Linked DNA regions of Homo sapiens: region 1 is linked to region 2. The links come from fine-mapping of genetic effects on gene expression. A gene starts in region 2. The other region holds a variant in brackets. All regions are shown on one strand. Distances are from middle to middle. Region 1 holds the start of GLIS2-AS1 (GLIS2 antisense RNA 1). Region 2 holds the start of PAM16 (presequence translocase associated motor 16).

The links. PIP is the estimated chance that this variant, and not a neighbour inherited with it, causes the effect.
Region 1: its variant is fine-mapped to the expression of PAM16 in whole blood (INTERVAL, PIP 0.98).

The regions. Positions count from the first base shown.
Region 1 is chr16:4,322,043-4,332,759 of GRCh38, forward strand. GLIS2 (GLIS family zinc finger 2) reads left to right here. Exons shown (of 7, transcript NM_032575.3): 2 at 10,173-10,410. The coding sequence starts at 10,239. It overlaps GLIS2-AS1 (GLIS2 antisense RNA 1), which reads right to left and starts at 6,298. Exons shown (of 4, transcript NR_110901.1): 1 at 6,218-6,298; 2 at 4,388-4,452; 3 at 3,228-3,312; 4 at 2,606-2,733. RefSeq lists enhancers at 351-1,136, 2,708-3,492, 6,526-7,526. The variant G/A (reference allele first, on the strand shown) is at 4,135.
Region 2 is chr16:4,347,057-4,357,773 of GRCh38, forward strand. PAM16 (presequence translocase associated motor 16) reads right to left here and starts at 4,265. Exons shown (of 5, transcript NM_016069.11): 1 at 4,176-4,265. The coding sequence starts at 4,178. It overlaps CORO7-PAM16 (CORO7-PAM16 readthrough), which reads right to left. Exons shown (of 31, transcript NM_001201479.2): 26 at 10,112-10,203; 27 at 8,230-8,316. CORO7 (coronin 7) reads right to left here. Exons shown (of 28, transcript NM_024535.5): 26 at 10,112-10,203; 27 at 8,230-8,316; 28 at 7,486-8,107. The coding sequence ends at 8,102. RefSeq lists an enhancer at 293-793.

The sequences.
Region 1 (10,717 bases), 25 kb before region 2:
GGAGGAGGGGGCAGAAGGGGATGGTGGCTGGAGGAAAGAGAACAGGGGGGCATGGATGGTGGTGAGGGAGGAGCTGGCACCTGGGAGCATCAGGTTCCCAGGGGGCAGGGGATCCTGAGGAAGGGGGGTGCCAAAGGAGAGGGCCTGGGGCAGGAGGCTCTGGGCTGAGAGAGCAGGTGGCACTCTTCTGTGTAGAGCCCTCTGTGGCTCCCCAGTGCCCTCTAGGTTCTGTCCCAGCCTCTCTGAGGGGCCTCTTTCTCTCCTGCCTCCTCGTCTACTCCATGACTGGTAGGGTCACTGCAGATCAGCCGGGCCATAGCCTCTGGTCCTCTGTGGCACTGGGCTTTGGGGTCTGCTGGCGAACCCAGCTGTGCCCCTTGCTGGCTGTGACAGTGGCAGGTTTCCCCACATGGAAAATGGGGAAAATGGCATCCATTCGCGGGGTCATCAGGGTGATGGACTGTGTGCAGCAGGCATGCTGACCGGGCGCCGACCCGCAGGGCTCCCACCTCCCCAAGGCTCTTCACCCCATATCCATGAGGCTGACCCGGATCTGTGCCCAACCCCCTGCAGGAGCAGCCCCCCCCCTACACTGTTTCTCCCACCCCACCTTGGTCGGGGCACCCTCAAGGTCCGGTTCGATCTAGCAGGGCCTGGCGTTGGAATGCATGAATGCGTGGTTGGAGAACCGAGGCAGGAGGGCAGGCCAAGGTCCACCGCCCGCCTTACCCACTCCTGCTCTCGGAGTTGGCGGGTGCCGTTCCCAGTGGACCTGGTACCTGGCCCCAGGCAGGGGAGGCGTGGGCCACGGGCCTGCCCCGACCCCCCAGGACTTAGGAGCTCCTTGTGGGATCTGCCTGCAGCCAGGCGTGGCTTGGGAGGCGCGGTGTTTCCTTCGCTCTGGGGACCCGGCCTCATCCCTGCTCTCCCCCAGAAGCCAAGGCTCCTGAGTCCTGGCCCCGACACTGGGGCAAGGGGTTACTGTGATGTCCTGTGTGTGCCACATTTGTGCACAGGTGTCTGTACATCCGGGGGTGCTGTGGGTGCCTGCTCATGTCCTGTGCTACACTGGCCCATCCCTTTGCTGGCCTCAGATAGCTCTGGCTGGGTCTGCTGAGAATGGCAGTGCCGCCTGGCAGGGCCTGGGCTGTCTGTGCCCCAGCCTTGCTGGGCGTGCATCCCTGTCTCGCTCCCTGGTGCCAGCCCCTCCCAGGGATTTGGGTGGCAGGGCCCAGTGCTCTGGTCCCCTCCCCTCCCAGCCCGGGTGGGTGGGCAGGTGTGGGGGCTGCGGGGCGGGCTTTCCTCTGGCTGGGGCCCAGGTGCAGGCGGTGATCATAGCTCCAAGCACCCCCCCAAAGCTGGGCAGACAGGAAAATACCAGACATAGTTGTGCAAAGGTGCAGCAGCGGGCAGGCAGCGGGGGGGTGGAGGCCACTGCAGCAGGGGCCCGGAGCCACCAGGATGGGGAGGCCTCTGTGCCAGGCCGGCCCTGCAGCTGGACTGCCATGGCCATCTGTGTGAGTGTGCGTGTGTGTGCCGGGGCTCCCGGAGCCCGGTGTCACCCTCCCTGCTGGCGTTGGAGAAGGAAGTGCCTCTGGTGGGGCATCTCCTAGGAAGCCCGGGCTGGTGCAGGCCAGGGAAGCCCTCCGGCCCGTCTTCCAGCTTCAGCTCTGCCTGAATTATCTGGGTGACCTTGGCAGGCCCAAGTTGCTGTGCAGGGAACCCCCAGCCTGGGGCCGGAAACAAGAATCCTTTAGGTTACCAGTAGCTGGCAGCTTCTTTATGGCAGGCATGAGGACAAGGCCCTCCCTTGCAAGATGCCCTGAGTCCCAGGGACCATTGCCGTGGTGTCTGTTACCTACAAGGAAACCAAGGCTCAGAGACAGCAGGGCCTTTCTGAGTTCCCACAGCCAGGGGTGGCACAGGGGGCTGTAACCAGGCAGCCTGGCCCTGGGGCACACTCTGTGAACACGCAGAAAAAAGATCCCTGGCACATCCCATCTTCAGGTGCTTTCCCGAGGACCCCACGGCAGAGGGCAGAGGTCAGCCCTGGCTGGGTCACCTCGGACCCCTTGTGTTCCCACCCCGGGAGGGGGTCTGCCCTCCCAAAAGGTCCGGGGGTGCTGGCTGAGTGCCCCGTCTTGGGAGGGGGAGGGGCTGCCTACTGAGCCAAAGGTTCCCAGGGACGGTGAATCCCCCACTCTTCCAGGAAGTGCCGCCTGCCCTGGCCCCTCTCCTGGGATCTGCTGGGCCAGGCCTCAGGATAAGCTCCTCCCCCTCCAGTCCTGGGAGGAGGCCTGTCTGCGGCCAGCTCCTTCCAGGGTTGATCAGGCCTTCCCGGGGCCTTGTAGTGCTCTTTCTTTGATGCAGTTGGGCTCTGGAAGGTGGTTAGGGCCAGCTGTGGTCACTCCCCAGGATTGAAGAGGCCTGAGGTTCTTTGAGGGGCATAGGCTTGTTTAGGGTGCACGCTGGCTGGCAGGTGGCAGAGCCCAGGTTCTCCTGGTTCAGGGTGAGACTGCAGTGGCATAGAGGGGATGGCCAGTCCCCACTCAGCTGCCCTCACAGCGGTAGATGGGCCAAAGGCTATGGACTCATGCACACTGGCGACGATTCATTCAGCACGTTTTATTAAGCACCTACTATGTGCCAGGCACTGTTCTCCGTGCTGAACGTTACGGACGAAGGAGAAGCACTCAATAGTGATTGGATGTGCAGCACTGCATTGGTTTCTCCCTGAAACCCAACATGGGGGTCCTATATAATCCCATTTGGGATGAGGGGGATGAGGCGCAGACTGAAGAGACACGCAAAGGGAGTAGCAGAGCCGGGTGGGGCCCCAGATTTCGAGTCCGGTTCTGTTGCCTGGTCAGGAAGGGGGGCCCTGAGAGGACGAGCCCTCCTGCCTGGGGCCCCCAGCAGGCCCTGCCCCTGCCCGCCAGCCCCTGCTGCTGGGCGGCCAAGGAGGGTGGAGCTCTTGGCCAGAGCAGGGAGCCGCAGCTGGTTCCCAGGAATCTGGGGCTGTGGGGCCGTTTGCTTTGGCAGCAGATCTGCCCTCGGCTCTCCAAGCCTCCTGGTGGGCCCCCCACCCCAGCCAGCCCCTCCAGCGCCCACCCACTGCCTGCTCTGCTATCCCTCCTAGCCCCACAAGTCCCTGGGCGGGGAGGGGGTACCAAGCCTGAGCCCCTGACATAGGAAGGGCCAATAGTGAACATGGCTTCTGGACTTACCTGGGGTTGAAACCCAGCTCTGCCACGGACAAGCTGTGGGACCTTGGATGGGTCACTTCACTCCCCTGAGCCTCAGTTTTTGCATCTGTAAAATGGGGATGAAACAGCACCTGCCTTCACAGTACCCGCACCTGGCTATGGGTACTGTCCTCATGCTGCTTGCCCGTGGCTTCTGGTTGTGGGTTTGCCACCTACTTGTGCAGCCTGGGCTGGATGCCTCCCCCTTCAGCCCTCAGTTTCCCCATCTGTAAGACCATACTGCTGAAGTGATGGTTCCAGTAATAGACTCAGGGACACCCACAGACCAGGGTTTCTCTGACTGGTTCAGGAGTGACCAGGGACTCACTTCCTCTTTCTGTTAAATTAGAAGATGACGGGCTGGGCGTGGTGGCTCCTGCCTGTAATCCTAGCACTTTGGGAGGCAGAGACAGGAGGATGGCTTGAGTCCAGGAGATCGAGACCAGCCTGGATGACACAGGGAGACCCCCCCATCTCTGCAAAATAAAAAATTTAAAAATGAGCTGGGTGTGGTGGTGGTGCACCTGTGGTCCTAGCTGCTCTGCAGGCTGAGGCAGGAGGATCTCTTGAGCCTCGGCGGCAGTTAGCCATGACCACGCCACTGCAGTCCAGCCTGGGAGACAGAGCAAGACTCTGTGTCTTAAAAAAAAAAAAAAAAAAAAAAAAAAAGGCCAGACTTGGTGGCTCACGCCTGTAATCCCAGCACTTTGGGAGGCCGAGGTGGGCGGATCACGAGGTCAGGATATCGAGACCATCCTGGCTAACACGGTGAAACCCTATCTCTACTAAAAAAATACACACAAAAAAATTAGCCGGGTGTGGTGGTGGGCGCCTGTAGTCCCAGCAACTCAGGAGGCTGAGGCAGGAGAATGCTGTGAACCTGGGAGGC[G/A]GAGCTTGCAGTGAGCTGAGATCGTGCCACTGCACTCCAGCCTGGGTGACAGAGTGAGACTCCATCTCAAAAAAGAAACAAACAAAAAAAACAAAGGTGACCACATAGACTTCTGAGAGATGCATCTTGAGGCCTTGTCTCCAAGTTCTCAGCTAAATGGCCACTGCTGACCAAAAGCGCACTCGCAGGACACTCCAAGGCAAGGGGTGTTCCTCACATTGCCCTTGACAACACTGCCACGCTGGTCACTCACCTGACCCCATGCTGCTGGGAGCGGGGCAGGGATGCAGCCCCATCTTACAGAGGACCCGCTTCCTTCTGCAAAGAGACCAAGTGGTTCTCAGGGTGGGTGCACACAGCCCCCCAGTGCACCCTGCACCTCCACAGGCTTAGGGCCTGCCAGCCACCCTCCCCCAAGCAGGAAAGGAGGAGCTTTTTTTGTTGTTTTTTGAGACAGGCCGGAGTGCAGTGGTGTGATCTCGGCTTACTGCAGCCTCAAACTCCCCAGGCTCAGGCGATCCTCCCACCTCAGCCTCCCGAGTAGCTGGGACCACAGGTCCCTGCTTCCACGCCCAGCTATTTTTTTTTTTTTTTTTTTTTCCGAGATGGAGTCTCACTCCGTCGCCCAGGCTGGAGTGCAGTGGCGCGATCTCAGCTCACTGCAACTTCTGCCTCCCTGGTTCAAGCGATTCTCCTGCCTCAGCCTCCCGGGTAGCTGGAATTACAGACACCTGCCACCACGCCCGGCTAATTTTCGTATTTTTAGTAGAGAGAGCGTTTCGCCATGTTGGCCAGGCTGGTCTGGAACTCCTGACCTCAGGTGGTCCGCCCTCGGCCTCCCAAAGTGCTGGGATTACAGGCATGAGCCACCGTGCCCGGCCACCGGCTGATTTTTTTACTTCAAACGGGATTTTTCCATGTTGCCCAGGCTGGTGTAGAACTCCTGCACTCAAGGGATTCTCCTGCCTCGGCCTCCCAATGTGCTGGGCTTACAGGCGTCAGCCACCGCGCCTGGCCTAGAAGGAGCTTTATTCAGAGCAGGACTCCAACCAGCTCCCTATTAGCCTAGTGATCTCAAGCCTCAGTTTCCCCATCTGTGAGATCGGGAAAATGACAGCAGCTACTGCCAGGCAGGGTTGTAGAGGGGTCATTGAATCCATGGACAGATGGGCCTGACACGTGGTCAGTACCTAATGGTCCTTTACCCCCTCTGGTGTATGACCCACCCCAGGCCAAGGGGCCCTGGAAGAGACTGTCTTTTCCGGGCCTTAGTTTCCCTGAGTGTGCTGGGTCGCCCCGTGCCTTCCAGTAGGGAGGGTGGGGACAGTGGCCGGCCCCGCCTGCCAGGGCGGGATCCTTGGCTACCTGGCCTGGCCGGGGACTGCGGGCGGGGGGCCGGGTGGCTCCGCCAGCGCTGCAGCTGGGGGCCGTCTGCTCGGGCTGCGGTCGGGCACACAATAGCAGCCATTGTCTCGGCCAGGGTGGCGGGGGGCCCGCCCAGCCCACCCTCCGGGTGACCCCCGCCCTGCGGTGGGTGGGAAGGGCAGGGCCCGGTCCCCCGAAGCCCCCGCCGTCCCGGTGGTCCCCGCGGCCGCCCCCGCGCGCTTCCTCCCTCGCCGCAGCCGCTTCCTCCCGCTCGCCCCGCTCTAATTAGTTCCTTTTGCAGCTGGAGGAGCCGCGCAGCGGCCGGTTCCGCGGCCACCCCCACCCCCCACCGACAACCCCAGCCCTCGCCCCAACCCCTGGGCCCTTGCGTGTGGGGGCGCTGCCCTGGGCGCATCCCAGGCTGAGTGCTCGAGAGACGCGGCCCTGGGCTCTGTGCACCCTCCACGCTGCGCTGTCCCACCGGGGGGAAACTGAGGAACGGAAGGCTCCACCAGGAGGCGCAGAGGGGCGTGGGGCCGGCGGGCCTTGCGCTGCGCCCGGGGAGCATCCACGGGGTGCCCCCACCTGACCGAGAGCCGGCTCCTGCCCTCGGGACCCCGCAGTAATTAGCACCCAGGCCTCTGGCTGAGCTTGTCCAGAGCCAGGCTGTCGGCCTTACGCTGGGGAGAGCCACGGCCACCCGCTCATGGGCACTCACTCAGGGTTCCCTGGTTGCAGGCCCGCTGCTCCCCGCTCTGGGCCTCCGAGGCTTTCAGGAGAGCAGGAACCTAGCTCTCGCCTGCCCCCTTCACCCAGCCGGGAACAAAAGCACAGAGCAGAGCCCAGAACTGGCTGCTGCCGGTCGGGGCGGGGGTGGAAGGGGAGGCTTTAAGCCTGGCCAAGGTCAGAACTGAAGCAGGGTCACTGACCGTCTCCCCTCTGGGGTGGGGCCTCCATTGGAGGAAAAACTCTGGGTGGGGAGGGCCTGGAACAGGGATGCTGGGAGGTGTAGGGCTGGGGGCAGCTCCTTCCTTTCCCGGGGGCAGGGACGCAGGCCGTGTGCCGGGCTCTGGCCTGCATTGGAATGAACCCCTGCCTCCCTGGCAGGACCCAGTGGCAGGAAGTGTGTGGGGGTGCCCCTGGGGACTGGACCTGCTGATGAAGGGGGTGCATTGGAGTCCTCCCTCTGGCTTTGGGCCGTGTGGCTGGCCCCACCTGGGGAGACAGGCTCCTCCTGGGGAAGTGTCCCCTGCAGGCCCTAAGAACAAGGTGACTCAGGGCCCCTGGCTCCCCGAGTCCCCATCTGTCCTGGGAAGGCAGTGGGGCAGGTGCCAAAGGATGTTGCTTGGGCAGCGCTGCCAGTGAGTGTCCCCGTCAGCTGGAATTCCCAGTTCCCAAACCATCCTGCCCTTGTGGTCCCCTTCTCCGGAAGGGTGGGGGTGGGGGTGAGGACAGAGGCTGTGGGGAGGCCTGTGGCCCCAGGCCAGCCAAGGGACCAGGCCACCAGCCCTTCCTGGCTCCTGAATTCTTCATCAGCATAAATATTTACTTCCTTCCTCCCCGTCCAGGCTTCCAGCACAGAGGAGCTTCGGGGAGGCTGGATTGCGCCTGTGTCTAAAAATAAACAGGTAGCAGGACGATAGACACACAGATAGACAGATGGAACTGGCAGGGGTTCAGGCAGAGGGCAACTCCCTGTCCAGCCAGAGAAACAGTGGAGGGGACCCTGGTCCATCCATCACTGTCACCCACCCACCTGCTAGCGGGGGTGTGGTCCCTACCCCACCGCATCTCTGGGAGCCCCTGGCCCATGCATGGCCTGGGAGGCAAATTCAAACAATCTGACAGCTCCAACAGGGGCGAATCGCAGACCTAGGTCCCACGGCCTAGTGCAGCTGCCCTGGCTCTGATGATGCAGCCTTGGGAGAGGTGGGCAGCCCCCCTGTGCTGAGACCCCCGTGTCAGCCATGTTGGGGTGGGGTCTGGGGATGTGTCCCTAGAAGCAGAGGATCTCCAGTGAAGGGGGGACCATTTTATGCCCTACTTGCTTGGAGAGTCAGGGCAGAAGGGGAGGACGTGGGAGCTGCCTTCCTGTCCTGCCCTGTGGACAGCATCTCTCCCCACTCACAGGCTATGCTAGCCCCCAGGGAAACACACGGGGGCATATCCAAAGTATTTCACCATGTAGTAGTTATGTCCACCATGGCCGCCCTTTGGTATTGAGTAAAGACCCCAATACCGCGAAAGACGGGATCTCACAGCGTGATTGTGCGGCAGTTAGATTTTCAAGTTGTAATAATCCCAATGAACAAACGCAAGGAAATGTCGTGTTTAACCGCGTAGGAAAAGATTGCTGCTCTGAATGTGAAGTTTGGGTTTAGAATGAAGTGTTGACCTTGTTCTTGGGTCGGTGGATACTGTTAGATCATTTGCATGTGAGGAAAATTACACCAGGTGGGGCGAGGTGGCTCACACCTGTAATCACAGCACTTTGGGAGGCCGAGGTGGGCAGATCACCTGAGGTCAGGAGTTTGAGACCAGCCTGGCCAACATGGTGAAACGCTGTCGCTACTAAAAATAGAAAAATTAGCTGGGTGTGATGGTGTACACCTGTAATCCCAGCTACTTGGGAGGCTGAGGCAGGACAATCGCTTGAACTCGGGAGGCAGAGGTTGCAGTGAGCCCAGATCACACCACTGCACTCCAGCCTGGGTGACTGAGAGACTCCATTTCCAAAAAGAAAATGAAAATTAAACCAGTGAGAAATTCTAAGAAAAATGATGAAAATTACAGCATGGGAAGTGATACTAAAAGAATACCATCTCCAGTAAAAAATAATTTCTACATATTTATATATTAACCGCCAGATACAGCTGGTCAACTCCACCAACCCTGCCCCAGCTGGCCAGGCCAGGCCACAATCCCCAGCTGCCCCCTGGTGGCGACCCAGCGCCCTGGGGCTCCCTGGCTTGCGATGCCTCTCCTCTAGGCCTCTGCAGGGAGGGCGGTGGGGCCCCTGGCTGTGCCCACTTTCTCGGTTTGCCTGGTGCGAGTTCCTTGGTGGTGAGCGTGGCTACCTGCCGGCCATTTCAGAGGATGCTCCTTGCCCCCTGGCCTGGTTCTAGATCTTTGGGGTCAAACAGGGCGGGAGTCCGGAGCATGGCTCCTGCTCTGTCAGAAAAGGCTGTTAGGACACGGCTAGCCAGTTCCCGGGAGATCTGGCTTCAGGCCTTGAATCTTGTTGGGAACAGGCCCCCCAAAATCTGGCTGTAAACTAGCCCCAAAACTGGCCATAAATAAAATCTCTGCAGCGCTGTGACATGTTCATGATGGCCATGACGCCCACGCTGGAAGGTTGTAGGTTTACCAGAATGAGGGCAAGGAACACCTGGCCCACCCAGGGCGGAAAAACTGCTTAAAAGCGTTTGGCTTTTTGTTTGTTTGTTTGTTTTTGAGACGGAGTCTTGCTCTGTCGCCCAGGCTGGAGTGCAGTGGTGCGATCTCGGCTCACTGCAAGCTCTGCGTCCCGGGTTCACACCATTCTCCTGCCTCAGCCTCCCGAGTAGCTGGGACTACAGGCGCCCGCCACCACACCTGGCTAATTTTTTTTTTTGTTATTTAATAGAGTTGGGGTTTCAGCGTGTTAGCCAGGATGGTCTCTATCTCCTGACCTCGTGATCTCCCCGCCTTGGCCTCCCAAAGTGCTGGGATTACAGGTGTGAGTTACTGCGCCCGGCCACAGGCGTTCTTGAACCACAAACAATGGCATGAGTGATCTGTGCCTTAAGGACACGCTCCTGCTGCAGATAACTAGCCAGACCCATCCCTTTATTTCCCATAAGGAATACTTTCAGTTAGTCTATAATCTATAGAAACTATGCTAATGACTGGCTTGCTGTCAATAAATACGTGGGTAAATCTCTGTTCAAGGCTCTCAGCTCTGAAGGCTGTGAGACCCCTGATTTCCCACCCCACACCGCTATATTTCTGCGTATGTGTCTTTAATTCCTCTAGCGCCGCCGGATTAGTCTCCCGACCGAGCTGGTCTTGGCAAATCTGATAGTTTTTCCACTTCTGAGCTCTGCGATCTGAGGCGATGCCTGTAAAAGACGCAGTTTCGCCAAGCGTGGTGGCTCAGGCATGTAGTCCCAGCGTTTTGGGAGGCCAAGGCAGGAGGATCGCTTGAGGCCAGGAGTTCGAGATCAGTTTGGGCAACATGGAGAGACCCGATCTCTACAAAAAAGAAAATTTTTTTTTTTAATTAGCCAGGAGCGGTGCCTGCCTGTAGTCCCAGCTACCAGGGAGGCTGAGGTGGGAGGATCGCTTGAGCCTAGGAGGTCGAGGCTGCAGTGAGCTATGATTGTGCCACTTGCACTCCAGCCTGAGTGACAGAGCGAGACTCTGTCAGCAAATAAAATTCAGTTTCATGGCAAAATGAAGAATGTGAGCTTTGTCTTCCCCAAGAGACTCATGGGAAGCAGATGCGGAATCTCTGAGGAGGCTGTTGGCTCTCCCCCCATGATAGCTGCCGGCCAGGTCGCTCGGAGGGTCTCCCTACCCAGGAGACAACCTCACACTGCCCCCTGCTCCTGCTCCTGTTAGACTGTCATGAGTACAGCCCGAGGAGAAGCCTGGGGTCTCAGTGCCACAGCACAGCTCCTGTCCTTCCCCAGGTTCCTGCGTGAAGACCAGCTGGGAGCCCACTGCCTGCTGCCACCTCCAACTCCGGCCCCCTCACCATGCACTCCCTGGACGAGCCGCTCGACCTGAAGCTGAGTATCACCAAGCTCCGGGCGGCAAGAGAGAAGCGGGAGAGGACGCTGGGTGTGGTCCGGCCCCGTGCTCTGCACAGGGAGCTGGGCCTGGTGGATGACAGCCCCACACCTGGCTCTCCAGGCTCCCCGCCCTCAGGTACTGGCCCTGGGCAGGGCAGGGGGACTTAGCCCTGATCCAGTCATGGTGACAGGGAGAATGGCCAAGTGTGTCCACCAGCATGTAGCTGCAGCCCCTCTCGGCTTCCGGTTCATGGGAAGCCCGCACGCTTGTCCTTCCATCCGCCCAGCATCGTATGTCTGCAGGGAGGTGGGAGCTGCAGTGCCCAGCTCACGTGGCTGGCACACGATGCAAACTGAGGCCTCTAGGCAGATCTGGAACAGAGCTGGTCGGGCAACCAGGCATTCAGAAGGAGCGGCAGTAGTCCCAGGACCTGCACCCTAGG
Region 2 (10,717 bases):
TGGAGTGCAGTGGTGCAATCATGGCTCACTTGCAGCCTCAGCCTCCCAGCCTCAAGAGATTCTCCTGCTTAAGCCTCCCGAGTAGCTGGAGCTACTTGTACTCAGCCTCCGAGGACCTGCTCTTTCCTTAACAGGCGGGATGTGATATGGGCCATTAGGGGAATGAACAAACACAAGTGGGTTAGGATTTCACAAGTAGGTGGAAATTTCATAACTTCTGGAGGCTGAGCACACGCCACCACATTTGGCTAAATGTACTTTTCTGGAGAGATGGGGTTTCGCCATGTTGCCCAGGCTGGTCTTGAACTCCTAGGTTCGCATGAACTGCCCTCCTCGGCTTCCCAAAGTGCTAGGATTACAGGTGTGAGCTACTGTGCCCAGCCTACCTCAGTTTTCTTAACTGCAAGATGGAGAGAATAACACCCTCCTCACAAGAGGACAGTAAGGCCCTCAGGAGGCAATGCCCATTAACACCACATGGACAAACAGCGGCAGGTCCAGAACTAGGCGGTGCAGGCAAGCCCCTCATCCACCTATCCAGTACCCCAACATCCCCTGAGCTTCTGCCATGGGTCAGGCTGAGTTCAGAGCTCATTCACAGGGAGCAGAGCTCTGCCAGCTGTGGCTACCATGGGTGACCAAAACAACCACTGCCTGAGGCCCCTCCCAGAGGCTCCAAACATCCCATAGTCCACCGACTGACACTTGGGCCTGAGGGTCCCAGGTGAGAGGACCCAGCTGACTTGGCATCCAACTTCAGGCCACGCGGCTGTCAGAGAGCAGCAGTCAGAAGCACAGGATCCAATCCTGGCATGCGTGGGGGCAGCATGTGCACTTCGTTGTTGGGCAGCAACCTGGCCCAAGGCAGGACCAGATCCCAGCAGCTGGGACCACAGACAGTGCTGTGGGAGGCACTCAGCAATGGGGCTTACACTGACTTGTGTCTTTGAGATTCGCGTGCAATGCGCCTTTGAGGCCAAGCCCCAGGCTCTGGGTAGATAAGCAGACAGCCTGAGACTCACTCTCAAGGACACTCTGGTCACCCAGGGCCCCTGAGAATAGATACGGGCATCACAACTAGACAGGAGAAAGGTCAGGACCACAACTGTAGCACGTGCCACAACATCAGGGACCTGGCCAGTGGCTGGCGCAGTAAGTGCCCCTGGTGCATCTGAATGAATATGGCTGTTGCAGCTTTGCCCAATCTGCTGTCTCATGAACTCCATGTCCCCAGGCAGGGTTTCCAAGCGCCTCCTAACCCTTCTGCGGGAGGGTTCTGGCCATCTCCCAGTAAACACACAATTCTCCACCGCCGCCTGCAGATTTGGTCCACTCCCCAGCTTGGCATTCACAGCGCCTGGTCTGGCCTCAACTTCTCAACCTCACCTCTCTCCACGCTGCAGCCACACCCTCTGCTCCTAGAGCCGCTCTCATACTTCTGTACTCCTCAGGGCCTTTGCTGTTCTGAGTTCCTCCACCTTGAACATCCTCCCTTCTACCCTGATCCTGTCAAAACCCAACATCCCTCAGGACCTAATATCATTCCCCATCCCCCGGGTGAAACCCTTTCCAGGCTCTCCCATGTATACCTTCCGACAGCACTTTCTTTTTTTTTTGGAGATGGAGTCTTGCTCTGTCGCCCAGGCCGGAGTGCAGTAGTGCGATCTCGGCTCACTGCAGCCTCTGCCTCCCGGGTTCAAGAAATTCTTCTGCCTCAGCCTCCTGAGTAGCTGGGACTACAGGCACACGCTGCCATGCCCGGCTAATTTTTTGTATTTTTAGTACAGAGAGGGTTTCACCGTGTTGCCCAGGCTGGTCTCGAACCCCTGAGCTCAGGTAATCCACCCAAAGTGCTGGGATTACAGGCGTGAGCCACCGTACCCGGCCTAGCACTTTCTTTTTTTTTTTTTTTTTTTGAGACGGAGTCTTGCTCTGTCACCCAGGCCGGAGTGCAGTAGCGCGACCTTCGGCTCACTGCAAGCTCGGCCTCCCGGGTTCAAGCCATTCTCCTGCCTCAGCCTCCTGAGTAGCTGGGACTACAGGTGCCTGCCACCACACCCGGCTAATTTTTTGTATTTTTAGTAGAGACGGGGTTTCACCATGTTAGCCAGGATGGTCTTGATCTCCTGACCTCGTGATCCACCCGCCTGAGACCCCCAAAGTGCTGGGATTACAGGTGTGAGCCACCGTGCCCGGCCAGCACTTTCTTTTCCTGTTAATATACTGTCATGCTGGGTGCGGTGGCTCACGCCTATAATCCCAGCACTTTGGGAGTCCGAGGCAGGAGGACTGCTTGGGCCCAGAAGTTTGAGACCAGCCTGGCAACATGGCGAAACTGCATCTCTACAAAAAATACAAAAAATTAGCTGGGCATAGTGGAGCATGCCTGTTGTCCCAACTACCCGGGAGGCTGAGGCTACTGGGGAGGATGAAATGGGAGGATCACCTAAGCCCCAGGAGGTTGAGGCTGCAGTGAGCTGTGATCGTACCACTGTACTCCAGCCTAGGAGACCCATCTGGGGCAACACAGCAAGACCCCACCTCTACATAAAATTTAAAAATTAGCCAGGTGTGCTGGCACTCACCTGTAGGCCCAACTACTTGGGGGTCTAAGGTAGGAGGATGGCTTGAGCCTAGGAGTTCAAGGCTGCAGTGAGCTAGGATCGCTCCACTGCATCCTAGCCGGGGCGACAGACAGACATCCTATCTCAAAAAACAAACCAAAAAAACCCCATGAGTTTTGGGACAGAGCTGGGCTCAAAAGAGGTCTCTGACACCATGGGATGCATGACTATGGTGGAGTCAAAACTGTCTGGGGCTCAGGTTCCTTATCTGTAAAATAAGGACAATGACAGCAGGACTTCATAAACACTAAATGAGAGACTCTACATAAAGCCTTAGCTCAGGGGCTGGCACTTGTACGCCGTTAGCTGTTACATTATCCTTATTACTATGTTAGTTAAGAAGTGGCTCCCCGAACCAGCTGCAACAGAGTCACTTGGGGAACTTACGTGTGCAGAACCTCCAGGGATAGAGCTCAAGAACCTGAACTTTTTTTTTCCCCCTCTTTTTCTTTTTGAGAGAGTTTTGCCCTGTCGCCCAGACTGGAGTGCAGTGGCACAATCTTGGTTCACTGCAGCCTCTGCCTCCTGGGTTCAAGCGATACTGGCGCCTCAACTTCCCAAGCAGCTGGGATTACAGGTGTGTGCCACCATGCCTGGCTAACATATGTATATATTATGTGTGTGTGTGTGTATATATATATATAAAATACATGATATATAAAAATATATATAACATAATAATATGTAGTATACATAAATGTATACGGTATATATAATACATATATATAATTTTTTTTTTGAGACGCAGTCTCACCCTGTCGCCCAGGCTAGAGTGCACTGGCGGATCTCGGCTCATTGCAACCTCTGTCTCGCGGGTTCAAGCGTCTGTCCTGCCTCAGCCTCCCGGGTAGCTTGGACTACAGGCGCGCACCACCCCACCCGGCTAATTTTTTAAATTTTTTGGTGGAGACCGGGTTTCATCATGTTGGCCAGGCTGGTCTCGAACTCCTGACCTCGTGATCCGCCGCCTCGGCCTCCCAGAGTGCTGGGATTACAGGCGTGAGCCACCGCGCCCAGCCAAACCTGCACTTTTAAAGCTACCCTAGGTGACCTGACAGTGTGGCGCAGGTCTGTTGACTGGCTCTACGTGCCAACGATATCACACAAACGCTCCGTGCTCGGTGTCTCGGGGCCTAGTTCAAGTCCCAGGTCAGCCACTTCCCTGGAAAGGCCAGCTTTCCACTGGGGATAACAACAGGGCAGCAACATCGACTCTGCAGCGCTGTAAGGTTCCAGGGCAGGGGAGGCGCTCACCAGCCAGACTCATGCTCCACCGCTGCCCACGGCTGCTCGCTCACACGCGGGCTAGGCACAGCGCGACCACGTTTGCCCGGCCTCTTCCAGGCAGACGGTTTTCCCTGGCCCTGAGGCCGCCGGTGCCGCCGCTGCCGGCCTCGATTCCCCCGGGTGCAACGCCCCCAGACCATGCTTCCCGCCGGGCACGCAGGGGGCGCACGGCGCCCGCCGCCCAGCCCGGAGCTCGCCGCCCGGCCCCCGGCCCCCGGCCCGACTCGGCTTCCCCTCCCCGGTAGCGCCCGACTCGGGGCTCACCATGGCAGCCGCTCTGCCTCCGGGGCTCAAACTCCGACTTCCTGGCCCCGCGGCCGGGGATCAAGCGTGGTCGGCGGGTCAGAGGTCAAGGAAAGCCGCAGAGAGCGCGTGCGCGATACGGCGCTGGGCATGCGCATTGCCTCAGTCTAAGGGCGGGCCACCGGGAGCGTCTTAGCGGCTCGGGGCGGGGTCGGAGGCGGGGTTTGACTGAGCCTGCGTCGGGCTCTGGATAACTGGGGGCGGGCTTGGGAGGGCAAGGGGCGTTACCGGGAGTCTCAATTGCCCGCGTGCTTACCCCAGTGCGCTGGAGCAGCTAAGCACATCGGTCAGACGTGGGGCGATTTCTGCCCTTGATTTTGCCAAAATATTTGGGAATGCAACATTATATGAAATCAATGAACATAATATGGAGTAGGATGCTAAATTCTCAAAAATACTTTAGAAAATAGAAAACTTCAAAATAGGTTTCATCCACATTCCTCCTGCCTGAGAAGCTCGTTCCCTTCTTCAAATCTTTGCTCAAATGTCACCTCAATGAGGCCCACCTGGACCCCTTAAAACGCCGTGACTTGCCCTCCATGAATGAAAAAAGTAACAGCTTTATTGAGATATAATCCATACACTGTAGATTTCATGATTTTCAAGTGCACAGTCCAATGCCTTTTATTCACAGAGCTGTGCCACTGTCACCACTATTAGTTCCAGAACGTTTTCATCACCCATTAGTCACTCCCCAGCCCCCTCCCCCAGCCCCTGTCAACCACTCATTTTTCTCTCTATGGATTCACAGGTTCCGGACATTTCATAGAAATGGAATCATACAAGCCAGGCGTGGTGGCTCATGCCTGCAATCTCAAAACTTTGGGAGGCCGAGGTGGATCGCTTGAGGTCAGGAACTCAAGGCCAGGCTGGGCAACATGGTGAAACCCCATCTCTACAAATACAAAAATTAGCCGGGTGTGGTGGCAGGTGCCTGTAATCCCAGCTACTTGGGAGGCTGAGTGGTGGATCTCTTGAGCCCGGGAGGTACAGGCTGCAGTGAGCTGTGATCACTGCACTCCAGCCTGGGTGACAGAGTCAGGCCCTGCCTCAAAAAAAAAAAAAAAAAAAAAAAAGGTAAAAATGAAAAATGAAAAAAAAGAAGAAATTGAATCATACAATGTGCAGCCTTTTGTGACTGGCTTATCCTCCCTTCTTGTCTCTATTTTTCTTCCAAGACTCTGATCACCCTCTACCATACCACATAATTTACTTATTTATTTTATTTATCATTTTGAGACAGGGTCTCACCCTGTCGCCCAGGCTGGAGTCCAGTGGCACAATCCTGCCTCACTGCAACCTCCACCTCCCAGGTTCAGGCGATGCTCATGCTTTAGCCTCCTGAGTAGCTGGGATTACAGGCATGGACCACCATGCCCCATTAATTTTTGAATTTTTAGTAGAGACAGGGTTTCACCATGTTGGCCAGGCTGGTCTTGAACTACTGGTCTCAAATGATCCACCCGCCACAGCCTCCCAAAGTGCTGGGATTATAGGCATGTGACACTGTGCCCAACCGGTTTTTTATTTTTAAATTATTTTTCCTTTTTTTTTTTTTTTTGAGATGAAGTCTTGCTCTGTCACCCAGGCTGGAGAGCAGTGGCCCAATCTTGGCTCACTGCGATCTCCACCTCCTGGGTTCAAGTGATCCTCCCACTTCAGCCTCCGAAAGTGCTGGGATTACAGGTGTAAGCCACCGTGCCCAGCCAAAAAAAAATTTTTTTTTTTCAAGATAGGGTCTCACTCTGTTGCCCAGGCTGCAGTACAGTAGCATGATCATGGCTCACTGCAGTCTTGACCTTCCAGCCTTGAGTGATACTTTCACCTCAGCTTTCTGAGTAGCTGGGACCACAGGCATGTGCCAACACATGTGGTTAATGTTTGTTTTTTGTCTTTTTGAGAGCGTCTCCCTGTTGCCCAGCCTGGAGTGCAGTGGCATGACCTCGGCTCACTGCAACCTCTGCTTCCTGGGTTCAAGAGATTCTCTTGCCTCAGCCTCCTGAGTAGCTGGGACTACAGGCATGGGCCACCATGTCCGGCTAATTTTTTGTATTTTTAGTAAAGACGGGGTTTCACCGTGTTAGCCAGGATGGTCTCGTGCTCCTGACCTCGTGATCCGCCTGCCTTGGCCTCCCGAAGTGCTCGGATTACAGGCGTGAGCCACCGCGCCCAGCTAATGTTTGTATTCTTTGTAGAGACAAGGGTTCCCCTATGTTGCCCAGTCTGACCTCAAACTCCTGGGTTCAAGCAATCCTCCCACCTTGGCCTCCCTTTATTTTTATGTTTATTGTTGAGAATCTGTTTCCTTCCACTAGAATGGGAGTTCCTTTTGGGCAAGCATTTCCTCTCTCTTCTCTGCTGTTAGATGTCAAGCGCCTGGAAGAGCATCTGGCGCACAGCATTCGGCAAATGGTGGGATGAAAGTTGGGCCACCTGGAATCCTACTCTACACCGCTGCCCTTCTTCCTCTTCCTCCTGGCCTCCACATTCCTCTCTCTGTGCCCACATTGTACTTCCTTGCCTCGGAAGTGGCTCTCTCCCTGGCTGGCTCCTCATCAGCCTTCAAGTCTTGGCTCTTAGCTGAAAGTCACCTTCTCAGGCCCTGAATTCCCTGCCTCGCTGCATCCCAGTTGCTTCCTGTCCCACAGGTTTTTTTGTTTGTTTGTTTGTTTTTTGAGACTGAGTCTTGCTCTGTCACCCAGGCTGGAGTGCAATGGCAGGATCTTGACTCACTGCAACCTCTGACTCCTGGGTTCAAGCAATTCTCCTCCCTCAGCTTCCCAAGTAGCTTGGATTACAGGCGCTTACCACTACACCTGGCTACTTTTTGTATTTTTAGTAGAGACAGCGTTTTACCATGTGGGCCAGGCTGGTCTTGAACTCCTGGCCTCAAACGATCCTCCCACCTTGGCCTCCCAAAGTGCTAGTATTATAGGCATGAGCCACCGTGCCCAGCCAGTTTCTCTTCTTTACTGCTGTCTTCACACTCTATATGCTCGTGTGCAGTCTGGTTCCCCTGCATAAGGAGGCTGTAAGAAGCTGAAGGTCCTTGCAAGACCTTATCTCTCCTGTCCTTTATAGCATCCCGCCATCCAGAGCACTGCCAGGAACCTGCATGGTGAGCGAATGACTCCCAGCAGTGCGCAGGTGATTGGGCCTTGGGACCAGAGTGAGGCTGAGATAAAGGGGAGCCCAGGGCCAGACCCCTGTCACCCACATTCCTGTCCCCTTCCCTTTCCAGCCAGCCCAGAGACCACAGCAGCACAAGAGGTGGCCAGCTTAAAAAAGTTTAATTGCTGAAAACATCCAAGGCAGGTGCGGGCCAGTCCCTGCGGGGCTCACACCCCCCTTATTGGACCATCAGCTCTGTGATGCCCCCTTCTCCTGGCTACAAACCTGGGAAGTAGGGCAGCTGGTCCCAGGGCCCTGAGACTGGTGCTGCTCTAGAAGGCCTGGTGGGGGGCCAGCCCCCAAGGCCCTTGACCAGAACTGGAACAGCAGGCAAGATGGGGCAGCGTGGGGTGACCAAAGATCCTGGATGAGGCCAATCCAGGCTGGGACCAGCCCAGGTCAGCAGTGAGACCAGGGGAGACAGGGTGCCCAGGGCCTGCCCAGGGACATGCTGCTGACCCCCCGCCACCCTGCACCCCTGGCCACATGCTAGCGGGCAGCTGATGAGCAGCAGCTGACCCCAGAGACAGCAGAGGTGAAAACAGTCCCTGGGAACTGCCAGAGGCCCAGAGGATGTGGAAGTGCCCACGGGAAGGCAGGAGTGCAGGGGTGACATGTGCCGGGGCCAGAGAGGTATCTTCCAGCTTGAGGATGAGCCGTGAGGTGTGCACTAGGAAGTGGCAGCACAGGTGAGGTGGAGGTGACGGGGGCGCAGGCTAGTCCTGGGGCGAAACACCAAGAGGTGGGAGGGAGTCAGGAGGGCCTGGGAAGGGAGGAGGCATGCACCGTGGCATGTGCGAGGGACCGCGCTGCCTGCCGGGAAGTGAGGCCACTCACTACTCACCCACTCGTCCTCGTCCACGCCTTCAAAGGAGTCCTGGGGGAGTGGGTCCTCCCGGTTCCCCAGTTTTGCCACCATGGCATTCAGCAGCTGGGAGAGAGGGCAGAAGAAGGGTAGGTAAGGGAATAGGACTCCCTGTTCCCTCTCCCACTCCAAGAACAACCCTGACAAGGCTGTGAAAAGAACTTTTTTTTTTTTTTTAGACGGAGTCTTGCTCTGTCGCCCAGGCTGGATGGAGTGCAGTGGCGCGATCTCGGCTCACTGCAAGCTCTGCCTCCCGGGTTTACACCACTGTCCTGCCTCAGCCTCCCAAGGAGCTGGGATTACAGGCGCCCACCACCATGCCCGGCTAATTTTTTGTATTTTTAGTAGAGACGGGGGTTTCACCGTGTTAGCCAGGATGGTCTCGATCTCCTGACCTCGTGATCCGCCCGCCTCGGCCTCCCACGGTGCTGGGATTACAGGCGTGAGCCACAGCGCCCGGCCTTTTTGTTTGTTTGTTTGTTTTAGAGAGAGACAAGGTCTTGCTCTGTCACCAAGGCTGGAGTGCAGTGGTGCAATCATGGCTCACTGCAGCCTTGACTTTCTGGGTGCAAGCAATTCTCCTGCCTCAGCCTCCCAAGTAGCTGGGACTACAAGTGTGTAACACCACACCTGGTTAATTTTTATTTTATTTATTTATTTTTTTGAGACAGAGTTTTGTTCTTGTTGCCTAGGCTGGAGTGCAATGGCACAATCTCGGCTCACCACAACCTCTGCCTCCTGGGTTCAAGCGATTCTCCTGCCTCAGCCTCCCAAGTAGCTGGGATTACAGGTATGCGCCACCATGCCCGGCTAATTTTGTGTTTTTAGTAGAGACGAGGTTTCATCATGTTGGTCAGGCTGGTGTCGAACTCCCAACCTCAGGTGATCCGCCCTCCTCGGCCTCCCAAAGTGCTGGGATTACAGGCGTGAGCCACCATGCCTGGCCACACCTGGTTAATTTAAAAAATTTTTTTGTAGAGATGGGGTTTCACTGGTCTCAGGCTGGGTCTCAAACTCCATCACTTATATCCTCTTGCTTTGGTCTCCCAAAGTGCTGGGATTACAGGTGTGAACCACCATGCCTGGCCAAAAGAGCCACTATATTTTATTTTTATTTTTATTTTTATTTATTTATTTATTTATTGAGACGGAGTCTCGCTCTGTCACCCAGGCTGGAGTACAGTGGCACGATTTCGGCTCACTGCAATCTCCACCTCCTGGGTTCAAGTGATTCTCCTGCCTCAGTCTCCCGAGTAGCTGGGATCACAGGCGCCCGCCACCATGCCCGGCTAAATTTTTGTATTTTAGTACAGACGGGGTTTCACCGTGTTGCCCAGGGTGGTCTCAAACTCCTGAGCTCAAGCAATCCGCCTGCCTTGGGCTCCCAAAGTGTTAGGATTACAGACATGAACCACCGTGCCCGGCCTCAAAAGAGCCATTTTAATTACAGCCCTGACAAAATCGATGGGTTTCTATTGAAAAAGACACAAAGAAGAGACAGGGGGAGTAAGAGACTGAGAGGCTGCGGCATGTGGCACCAGATACAAGGGCTACTATCTCTGCACATGGCCTCAAGTGCTCAAAATATACTCCAAGGTCCCAAAAGCACTTGGGCCCAGAACTGCCGGCTTAGGCTGGGTTTGGCCTGGCCAGGGCAGGGCTCCCACTGCCCTCCCCCACTTCCCGGGCCCCATGGTCAGTGGTAGGGCTCTGGAAGGTCTCCCCACCAGGCTCTGGTGTGAAGGGGACGTGACATGTGGCTGCTGTCCCAGTCTGGGTTGGGGATGGAGAACTAAGGGGCCGTGGCCAGGTGCAGCCAGGACTCTGTCACCTCCGCACAGCTGCTCTCTCCCATGCCTACCTCCTCCTTCTTTTGCTGGTCAGACTTTTCTTCCAGGTACTGCGCTGAGGATGGGGCCCGACGAGCAGGGGCCTCTCGGGGGGCTTGGCTCACTGGGACAGAGCAAGGACACGTGTCAGAGAGTCCCCTTCGTTAGGGCTCTTTGGTGCCAAGCCCTCGGGGATTTCTTTCTTTCTTTTCTTTCTTTCTTTTTTTTTTTTTTTTTTTGAGATGGAGTTTTGCTCTTGTTGCCCAGGCTGGAGTGCAATGATGTGACCTAGGCTGACTGCAACCTCCGCCTCCTCTGGGTTCAAGCGATTCTCCTGCTTCAGCCTCTGGAGTAGTTGGGATTGCAGGCGCCCACCACGCCAGGCTAATTTTGTATTTTTAGTAGAGATGGGGTTTCACCATGTTGGCCAGGCTGGTCTCAAACCCCCGACCTCAGGTGATCCACTCGCCTCAGCCTCCTAAAGTGCTGGGATTACAGGCATGAGCCACCGCGCCTGGCCGACCTAGGGGATTTCTATGGCGCAGATCTAAGAGGTGGTATTAACAGTCAATGGAGCCTCACTGTATAAGCCCTGCCCTAGACACCACAGTGTGTGCGTGTGTGTGTGTGTTAGGGGT